2 separate regions of the Homo sapiens genome follow, and region 1 is linked to region 2. The links come from fine-mapping of genetic effects on gene expression. A gene starts in region 2. The other region holds a variant in brackets. All regions are shown on one strand. Distances are between the middles of the regions.

Region 1 (5,381 bases), 680 kb after region 2:
TGGGTGTTTGAATTCTTTTCCCAGGTTTTGTTGTTATAAATAGCATCTTTGTTGAACATCTCTTCATATAAACTCTTATCTGCAGTGTTTCTTTTTTTTTTTTTTTTTTGGATTGCCTTTTTTTTTTAGGATAGATTCCTAAAGTTGAGATTTCTGGGACAAAACAGTCAGCTTTAAGATCCTGCTATCTATGAGCTCGCTTATTTGCTCCAAATTACTCTTTTTGAGATACTTGATGAAGATACACTTAGTTTGCTGGAATAAGGAGTCACACCCACCAGGTGTGAGGGAGAGAGATTGCTGCTATTGAAGTCAGAATTACTCAGTGTCATAGTTCAGCTCCGCCACTTAACACTTTGAGAGATCCTGACCAAGTGACCCCACTGAAGCTCGATTTCCTCTCCTGTAAATATAGGAGGTAATATAGGCACAATAATGCTTAGCTATTGTCAAGAAGATAATATGCATTAAATGTCCAGTGTCCCTCCGTCAAAACTAGGCACTTGTCTCATGTCCATTATTCTTCTTCCTTCTCTTCACAGCCTTCAACTCCATCATAAATATGCACCTTTGGCTTCTGAGTCCTGTATATGTCTGACTCCTAGGATGTGAGTCACCGATCTGGCAGCATGACTAGGTGACATTATGATGCTGTGGACAGCAATGGGCCTGCAACCTGAAGCTCAGGATCCAGGCCCACCCCTCATTAGCCTGTGATCTCAGGAAACCCCTCAACACATTTTGAGTCTGGCCCTCATTAAAAATGGAGGCAAGGAGGCTATTTTACATCAGCCCAGGGGTAGGGGTCAGGCAAGAGGCTGGATGTAGCAACGCGCAATGTACTGCCATGGTCTCTATAAACATCAGTTAGTTTTATTGTCAGCAACTTGCTTTAAATATACTGGGGCTTGCTTCTGTGAACTAACTCATTTCATTTTCTCCTACTAGATTATAGGCCCATAGACTGACTGGGTAAGCCTCGAATCACTACATACTATAGTAATTACTAATTACATGTTTCTGCCTTCTGTGGCTTATTAGTAAATTGCATGTAGATGGATCTAAAAGTAATTGCCCTTCTTTCATAACTTCAGCAGCCTGCAGAAATCACAAAGAATTACCTTATTTACTTCCTAAGTGATTCCCAGTGGTCATTTATCAAATATACAGAAGAAAAAAATCATACAATCATCAAATATTCTTCTGCTTACTAATGATAGAGAGGGTCACAAGAAATCTTGAATGGAAAAGGCTGTTAAACAGCTGCCGACTAACTGTATGTAAATATCCCCCTGTGGGTAATAGCTTAATTTTGATCATTGTTCAAAAGACCAAGCACTTTAAATTATTAATAGGTGTCAGCTACAAAAGAATGTTTAACTGGAAACTTACAAGAAGAGAGCTTGATCCGTACAAATGACGTGGTGTCTTTCACCCCCCTGGTGTGTGGGAAAGAAAGAGGGGTGGAAAGAAAAGGATAAAAAGCACGATAGGCCAAAAGTCTGCCTCATTTTTTCCCAGAGTGGGGTTTTGTGGCTTGTGGGTGTATTGCTTTACCACCTTGGAAACTGGGCTGGGCTACTTTCATTTATTAGGTTGGCTATACATAGTTTTCCTCTCTTTAAGCAAAGTTGACTCCAACTAAGCCAAAAACTGGAAGCCACTGAGATTACCAGGTTGTAATACAAGCCTTTATACTTTTGCTGTGATAAAAACTTCTTCACATCCAAACACATGGCATAGACACTTTTCATTGTGAACAGCGCTGATGTGATTCTGCTCAAATAAACTGAAGATCCCATTTCAAATGATTCATTTGATAGAAACATCAGGATCACTGATACGTGGATTGACCTCTGTGATCCTTTCCCTAAAAACACATACAGTGGATCATGGGATTGTTGAGTTAATAAGAAAGAAGAAATGGCTTGTTTTTCTGTTTCCTTTTCTTGGTTTTTATGGCAGTATGGACTTCTGGCATTTTGGGTAAGCCATGAGTATTAGAAATGAAAACGAAGGAAGAGGTAGGGCATGAAGGATTAAGGAAAAGGTTCAGGTGTGTATATTATGATCTGCCATGATAAGAAACTCCTTCCTGGTTCTCCTTCCTCCTTCTGTATGCACACCCTCCCTGTCCAGACCTGTAGGATGAAGAGTTAACATGCCCAAGCAGCAACACCACTGAGCACTGAGGAAGCTTTCAGACACGGGAAGGGGCGGGGGGCCACCTCCATCCTTGCCACATTGCCGTTACATTTCTGATGTAGGACAGAAATCATAAGAATGTTGCTAATCAGAGATGCAAACTGCTGATGACAGAACCAGAGCTGGAGCCCAGTAAACAAAGTCCATGGGGATTTTTAACTAGGATTTGTGCTCTGGCCATGTGGGATGGGGTTGGGGGATGTTGCAGGAATAGGTGCCTTGATTGTCCTGAGGCTGTGATAAGAGTCTGGGACAGCCTCACTGGGGCACAAGGCCAAGGCTGTCACCATTCTGGGGGTCCCTTCCCTGCCCTCTCTTGGGCTGTCCTCTCCTCCTGGCTGTGCCGACTCCTATCCCACCATAAATGCATTCATCCTTTGGCTGCCCAACTCCTCTGACCACCCAGGTTGTGAGCCCCATCATCCACAGGGTACTGCTGACAGGATCGAGGTCCCTTGAGCCCAGGCTGAGGTCATAAGTACCATACTGAAAGCTTGCTGTGGTTGTTTTGTAGGTCAATTGAGGCTCCTCCAAAGAGACATAACACTCCTTAGAGAAGGAGAAAGACCACCAACTTTGCACCCTCCTCTGTGCCAGGCCTTGGGCTAGGCCCAGGGAGCTCATAGTCTACTGCTGAAGACAGATGGGTCAGCAACCATGGCACACAGTGCAATGAGGCTAAAGCAAGTGTCAGAACCAGGGTCAGAGGAGACATTGAAGCTGAGTGACCACTCAGGACACAGGGACAGCTTCTGGAGAGAGAGAATGTCTGGATTACATTTTGAGGGATGAAGAAGAGCTTGTCAAGCAGGCAGAAGGGGTCTCCATAGAGCAGGTGTCTTTGTTCCTTGGTGGCTTTTTCCTTCTCTTCCTTAACACACACACACAAGGAGATTGCCTAGAACAACTTTGGGCAGCACATTGCAATTTCTTATTTGGGTCCAACTGGCTACATCAGGCAGCTTCAGAAGCCTCTAGCCACATTATGTGAGCCCCCTTATCATCTTCTGCTGATTGCCTCCTAGAAATGAGGCAACTGAAACCAGAACTGACCAAGTCGCCGCACCTGTTTGCTTGTAATACTTGAACGGTTGTCAGAAACCAATAATAATAAGAGCCAGCATTTTTAGAG[C/A]CTTACTATATGGCAAGCATGGTGCCAGTATTAGTCTGTTTTCACACTGCTGATAAAGACATACCCGAGACTGGGAAATTTACAAAAGAGAGAGGTTTAATGGACTTACAGTTCCATGTGGCTGGGGAGGCCTCACAATCATGGTGGAAGGTGAAATGCATGTCTCACATGGCAGGAGACAAGAGAAGAGAGCTTGCACAAGGAAACTCGCCTTTATAAAACCATCAGATCTCATGAGACTTATTCACTATCACGAGAATAGCATGGGAAAGACCTGCTCCCATGATTCAGTCACCTCCCACCTGGCCCCTCCCACAACACAAGGGAATTCAAGGTGAGATTTGGGTGGGGACACAGCCAAACCATATCAGCGCCTCAACTCACATTATCATAAGACTGATTTGGATGCTATTAATATTCCCAACTTACAGATGAGAATAGCAATACTTAGCAAAATTAGACAATTGGCCCAAGGTTGCACAGCTAGTAACCAAGCAGAGCCAGGATCAAATACTGTTTTTTCTGATGTTCACAATTAAGCTCTTGGCCTTGGAATTCCTGACATAAGTTTAGGTGTTTGGTGGCCATTCGGATGCCTTATTTATGAGCCACTGTTTGTATAGGGCTTTTTATTCTCAGGAGGGTGAACGGTACACAGATGAAAGACATTATTTCTAGGGGAACTTCATTCATTCAAGTAACCTCCAGTATGGGCTAGCTTAGTGCTGGGCACTGCCCTAGGAGCTGGGTTATGAGGAGAAGAGCAGGTGTTTCTGCCCCCAGAAGCTGAGTCCCAGACAGAGAGACATATCACGATGATGCAGTATGTGGTTTGGCCATTTAAGCGTTTCACAGGAGAGGGGAAGATCCCTGGTTCCTGTTGCAGGGAGTCAGGGTGGAGTTCTCAGGAAAGATTCACCTTGAAGGATAAGTGGATGAACAGGATGGGCCAGAACTCTAGCAAAGGCATAAATCCATGAAATCAAGGTTCTACACAGCCAGGGAAAAAGAGATGCCAGGGATATGGGGGAGGCTGGAGCTAAAAGATAGGCTATGGCCAAGAAAGCCTCGTGAAGAAAAGTGGGGTTTTATTTTGTGACTGCATAAGGGCTATTGCTGAGCTTTTCTTAGCCGAGACATATTAGCACCAACCAATTCAGGCTTTTTTGTTTGTTGGCTTGTTTGACTTTTCCAGGGCAGAGGTTCCCAAACTTTAGCCTGCACCAGAATCAGCTAGAAACCCCCAACCCCAGCAACTCTGATTCAGTGTGTCTGGGGTGGGGCCAGAGAATTCTCATTCCTACAGAGTCCCCAGGTGCTGCTGGTACCACTGGTCTGTGGCCACTCTTGGAGAATACTACATGGAATTCCCACTCCGCTTACCAGTGATGAGATTAGGATGGGCACATGCAATGAGGGAAGTCTGCTGCAGGCTTCTGGAAAGGATCTCTCAGTATTAAAGAAGAGAACCCAGGAGGAGATGGTGCTTTCTCCCCGCTGGAGATTTTCATGTCTGATATGATACCTGGAACTGCTAAAGCCATCTTGCAGCTGTGAGGGGAACAAGCAGGACTAAGTCAGCTCACTGAGCAAAAAATCTGGAAAGCACCTGGATCCTTGATGGTGGCATAGAGACATGAAATCAGCCAACCCTGCAAACCCCAGCCCACGGACTTAGCATGGGAGGCAATGACTGTGCCTTATTGTTCAAGCCCATTCAGAACTTGTTTTCTGCTGCTTGTAGCTGAAGCCATCCTCATAGGCACAATATACACTCTACGGTTTGCTTTATTGCTGCTTAACCACTGCTGCTTTGTTCTGTGTCCTCTTCTTTCTTTTCACCCCTTTCTTGGTCTTTCAAACATCTCTGCCTCCCAGTGGCTATTTACAGGCTGCTGGCACTACATCTATCTATCTGACCTGGGCCTCTCTCCTTGATATGGTGTGGCTGTGTCCCCATCCAAATCTCACCTTGAAGTTTAATAATCCCCACATGTCAAGGAGGGAGCCAGGTGGAGATAATTGAATCATGGGGATGGTTTCC
Region 2 (5,358 bases):
AACTTTGGTAGGGAATTTATTTAAATAACATAAATGCAGCCGGGTGCGGTGGCTCATGCCTGTAATCCCAGCACTTTGGGAGGCCAAGGTGGGTGGATCACGAGGCAAGGAGATTGAGACCATCCTGGCTAACATGGTGAAACCCTGTCTCTACTAAAAATACAAAAAATTTGCTAGGCGTGATGGCCCACACAATGGAAAGCTGCTAGAGGATTTTTTTTTTTCCCTGAGACAGAGTCTTGCTCTGTCACCCAGGCTGGAGTGCAGTGGTGCGATCTCAGCTCACTGCAACCTCTGCCTCCTGGGTTCAAGCGATTCTCCTGCCTCAGACTCCCAAGTAGCTGGGGTTACAGGCATACAGGCATGCGCCACCGCACCCAGCTAATTTTTGTATTTTTAGTAGAGATGAGGTTTTACCATATTGGCCAGTCTGGTCTTGAACTTCTGACCTCATGATCTGCCTGCCATGGCCTCCCAAAGTGCTGGGATTACAGACGTGAGCCACCACTCCTGGCCTCTGCTAGAGGATTTTAATTGACAATACCCTTAATTTGCACTTTGACAGAAGCACTTTCTCTGTTTTGTGAGAATGTATTATATCTGACTGGGCGCAGGTGTACAGGTGGGTGTGAAGGGCCAGTGTCGATGTAGAGCTACCACATGGGAGAATGCTGCATTCACCTAGGTAAGACACCTGTTCTAGTGAATGGCAACCATCCACACAGCTGCCCAAGCAAGGCATTCTGTATATCCGTCTCAAGGTCTCTCGACCTCTAATTCTTTCCACCATGAATCAAGAGATTTTCCAGAAGGAGAACTCTTATCAAGATACTCTCCTGTTGAAAATCCTTCAAAGGTTCCTCACTGCCTACAAGATGACTTCTTAACACAGCTTCAAGTCTTCTGCTTCCTTCTGATCACCTGTGTTCTCTCCCTCAGGTCTGCTCCTTGAAAAAAGCAGTTTGGTCTGCTTTCTTTTGCCTGGACCCATTATGTGCTCTCAAAACCCCCTGGACCTACCCTTGTCATTGCACTTGTCGTACCCAGTGTTGACTTGTGTACCTTCTCCAACTAGATTAGGCAGTAAAAGTTTTATTCAGACCGTATCTTTAACGTCCAACACTGGGAATAACGCGCAGTATCCTCCTCAGTGTCTGCTGTAAGAATGATGAATTCACTTTTTTTTTTGAGACACCGTCTCACTCTGTCACTCAGGGTGGAATGCAGGAGGTTGCCCACTGCAACCTCTGCCTCCCAGGCTCAAGTGATTTTTCGGCCTCAGCCTCCCGAGTAGCTGGGACCACAAGGGCGCGCCACCACGCCTGCTAATTTTTGTATTTTTGATAGAGACGGGGTTTCGCCACGTTGCCCAGGCTAGTCTCAAACTCCTGAGCTCAGGAGATTCACCCGCTTCGGCCTCCTAAAGTGCTGGGATTACAGGAGTAAGCCACCGCGCCCGGCTGGATTCACTTTCTTACCGAGAACTCTAAGAAGGAGCCACCGCCTAATAACGTATTTCTGAAGGCAAAAGTCCGGATAGCAGCTTTATTTCTGACACTGCCATCCGTCGGCCTGTGGTACAGCTTTCTAGTGGGCAACCCCATCCTTTTGGTAAGCAACTACTGCCTCCGTGTCAGACGCTCTGCGGCTGACAGAATTAGAGACAGTCCCCGCCCCAGATTGCTCCCCTCGCTGCAGCAGGGGATAGTTCGCTGAAGAACAGGGATCATTGTATGACTTCAGGAGAATGCGAGCTTTGGCCCAGGGTGCACAAATCATTAAGGCTCAGGCCACTCCGACTTCTCCGCCCAAGTCCAGGGACCTCTCGAGGTGCTGAAATCCCCTCAGCCTGACCAATGCTCTTTGACCAACGCTGGTAGTTCTGGGCGCTGGTCACACCTATGGACTACTGGCCCTCCCCTTCCCATTGCACCCCATCTCTGACCCTGCAAGACCCGGGACCGCTGACCTCGGACCCCTTGCCCTATTTCTCAGCCCTTTGGCCACTCTTACTCCGTCTTACATTTTCTTGGCCACATCCGTCTCCCGGAACTGCTCCTTCACCATGATGACCGCTGCCGGGACGCCTCCTTGGCACTCGGGAGGCCAGATTAGAGAAACGATGCCCCCAGCACCTCCTGGGGCTGCTTCTGGACTCGCCGCTAACACATCTGCGGCATCCTCTCGGCCACCGTAGAGTGTCCCACGTGTCCGCTTCCTCTTCCGCTACTCGCCCGCGCGTCTGTCTGTCAAGAGAGACTTCCGGCATGCCTTTTTTTTTTTTTTTTTTCCCTTTCCCCGCACCGTCACCTGGTGGCGCTTACTGGAAGCCGCACCGAGGCGTGTGCTGTATTTTAAAAATCCCATTTCTGGTCAATTTCTCCACGTAATCAGACACCCGCAGAGAAACTGCATATAACTCTTTGCCTCAAGGCTTTTAGACAAGCAGAGGGCCAAAACTTGCATAAAATGGAAAATCATCATCATTAACATCAGTACCATCTAAATTAAGAGCTTCTAATTGTTTTAAGGGAAGGTGGAAGCTAAAATGAACCGGCCCATCCAACAGAGGGCACTATCTGTGGAGGACCAACAAAGGAAAACAGAGCGGAAAATATGGGCGCACATGTGCCTCCAGTTCATGAAGTTATTTGGAGGGAGGGGGGAAGAATTAAACTTACATTATTGATTACAAAAACAGTTGAAAATCTGTTAGAGTGAAAACAGCCATGGTAATCTACAGAAGAAAAGGGAGAATGGAAAGTAAAGATCATTCATGTCTTGAAATAAGTTGTCTACAGTCTGTGAGAACTTGTGGGAGGTGATCCTAGTGTGATATATTAGTGCATGAGCCTAGCAAGGAAATCACATCACCACAGGGCTTAGCGCTTAGAATTAGAACTAAGTCCTCATTATTTGTGAGAAACTCAAAACAGAACTTAACAAAAGTGTTTAACAACTTTCAATTTTTAAGAAGGGACGCTATCTCATTTTCAGACGCCATGGATCCTCACTAGCAAAACACAATGTCACAGACAAACGAGGCATATCAGGTTTTTCTAACTCATTTCGGTACTCCATCACTTAATCATGAAATAATGTTGACTATATATATATATATATATATATATATATAGTCAACATTATGGGTTTTTTTTGTTTTTTTTTTTTTTTTTTTTTTGAGACGGAGTCTCGCTCTGTCGCCTAGACTGGAGTGCAGTGGCGAAATCTCGGCTCACCGCAACCTCCGCCTCCCGGGTTCAAGCGATTCTCCTGGCTCAGCCTCCCGAGTAGCTGGGACTACAAGCGCCCGCCACCACGCCCAGCTAATTTTTGTATTTTTAGTAGAGACGGGGTTTTACTATGTTGGCCAGGCTGGTCTCGAATCCCTGACCTCGTGATCCGCCCGCCTCAGTCTCCCAAAGTGATAGGATTACAGGTGTGAGCCACCACACCCGGCTCTGATGTTTACAATATTATACCAACAAGGGTTGGATCGTGTGTGACTTATCTAGAGGTTAAGAGCAAAAGTTATGAAATCACAGTGCCATCATGGGAGTCTAGCTTTCACCATTTAAAGTTGTGTAGGCAGCCAGGCGTGGTGGCTCACGCCTGTAATCCTAGCACTTTGGGAGGCCAAGGTGGGCGGATCACCTGAGGTCAGGAGTTCGGGACCAGCCTGGTCAACATGGTGAAACCCCATCTCTACTAAAAATACAAAAATTAGCTGGGGTTGGTGGTGTGCGCCTGTAATCCCAGGTACTCGGGAGGCTGAGGCAGGAGAATCGCTTGAAGCTGGGAGGTGGAGGTTGCAGTGAGCCGAGACCATGCCATTGCACTGCAGCCTGGGCGACAAGAGTGAAACTCCATCTCAAAAATAAAAAAAAATAAAAAATAAAGTTGTGCAGGCCGGGCGCGGTGGCTCACGCCTGTAATCTCAGCACTTTGGGAGGCCGAGGTGGGCAGATCATGAGGTCAGGAATTTGAGACCAGCCTGACCAATATGGTGAAACTCCGTCTCTACTAAAAAATACAAAAATTAGCCTGGTGTGGTGGCGCATTCCTGTAATTCCAGCAACTCAGGAGGCTAAGGCAGGAGAATCGCTTAAATCCGGGAGGCGGAGGTTGCAGTGAGCCAAGATTGTGCCACTGCACTCCAGCCTGGGCAACAGAGCAAGACTCTGCCTCAAAAAAAAAAAAAAAAAAAATATATATATATATATATATAGATATAGATATAGATATATGTGTATATATACACATACGTGTATATATACACGTATATAAAGTGTGAACTTGGGAAAGTTATTTAATCTTATTGTGTGTTAGTTTCCCCATTTATAACATGGGTGAGTAATATGTATCCTATTTCTTAGAGTCAATGGGAAGGTTAAATAGCAAAATGAAGGTAAAAGTAATTAGAATGTAACAGGCACATTACAATCACTCAATAAATATTCTTCTGCCTCAGCCTCCCGAGTAGCTGGGACTACAGGTGCGCACCACCATGCCTGGCTAATTTTTGTATTTTTAGTAGAGACGGGGTTTCACCATATTGGCTAGGCTGGTCTTGAACTCCTGACCTCGTGATCTGCCTGCCTCGGCCTTCCAGAGTGCTGGGATTACAGGCATGAGCCACCGTGCCCAGCCGGCTGACTATTTTCTTAAGAATAAGGATAGTTGGTCACCTCGGGAGGCTGAGGCAGAAGAATCGCTTGAACTTGGGAGGCGGATGTTGCAGTGACCCGAGATCCCGCCACTGCACTCCAGCCTGGGTGACAGAGCGAGATGCGGTCTCAAAAAAAAAAAAAAAAACAAAAAACGAAAAAAAAGAAAAATAGTCGGCCGGGGACGGTGGCTCACGCCTATAATCCCAGCACTTTGAGAGGCCGAGGCGGGGGCGGATCACTTGCGGTCAGGAGTTGGAGACCAGCCTGGCCAACATGGTGAAACCCCGTCTCTCCTAAAAATACAAAAATTAGCTGGGCATTGTGGCGCAGGCCTGTAATTTTAGTTACTCTGGAAGCTGAGCCAGGAGAATCGCTTGAATCCGGGAGGTCGAGGTTGCAGTGAGCCGCGATGAAGCCATTGCTCTCCAACCTGGGTGACAAGAGCTAGACTCTGTCTCAGGAAAAAAAAAAAAAGAAAATAGGAAAGCTGCCCGCAAAGCCTGCACCTTGGACACCTCGTCTGCACTAACATTTGGGAAATTCTTCTTATTATTTCTCCGGAACATATATATTTACATTCTTTACATGTCTGTTTCACGTTAAAGAAAATATTTCTGGAGCAATCAATTTTTTTTTCCTTTTTTTTTTTTTTTTTCTGAGACGGAGTTTCGCTCTTATTGCCCAGGCG

Which allele goes with the higher level. Positions count from the first base shown, and alleles are read on the strand shown. Sizes are in standard deviations (SD) of each study's normalised expression.
As copies of C replace A in region 1, the expression in hypothalamus of the gene that starts at base 2,175 in region 2 goes down (moderate effect, 0.74 SD a copy in GTEx).

Evidence for each region. PIP is the estimated chance that this variant, and not a neighbour inherited with it, causes the effect.
Region 1: its variant is fine-mapped to the expression of POLR3A in hypothalamus (GTEx, PIP above 0.99).

Annotation. Positions count from the first base shown.
Region 1 is chr10:78,705,824-78,711,204 of GRCh38, forward strand. The region is part of intron 1 of LOC105378379 (a long non-coding RNA gene); the gene reads right to left. Among named protein-coding and RNA genes, the nearest start is that of ZMIZ1-AS1, 360 kb to the right of the region's middle. The variant C/A (reference allele first, on the strand shown) is at 3,338.
Region 2 is chr10:78,027,341-78,032,698 of GRCh38, forward strand. POLR3A (RNA polymerase III subunit A) reads right to left here and starts at 2,175. Exons shown (of 31, transcript NM_007055.4): 1 at 2,024-2,175. The coding sequence starts at 2,067. RefSeq lists an enhancer at 2,095-2,344.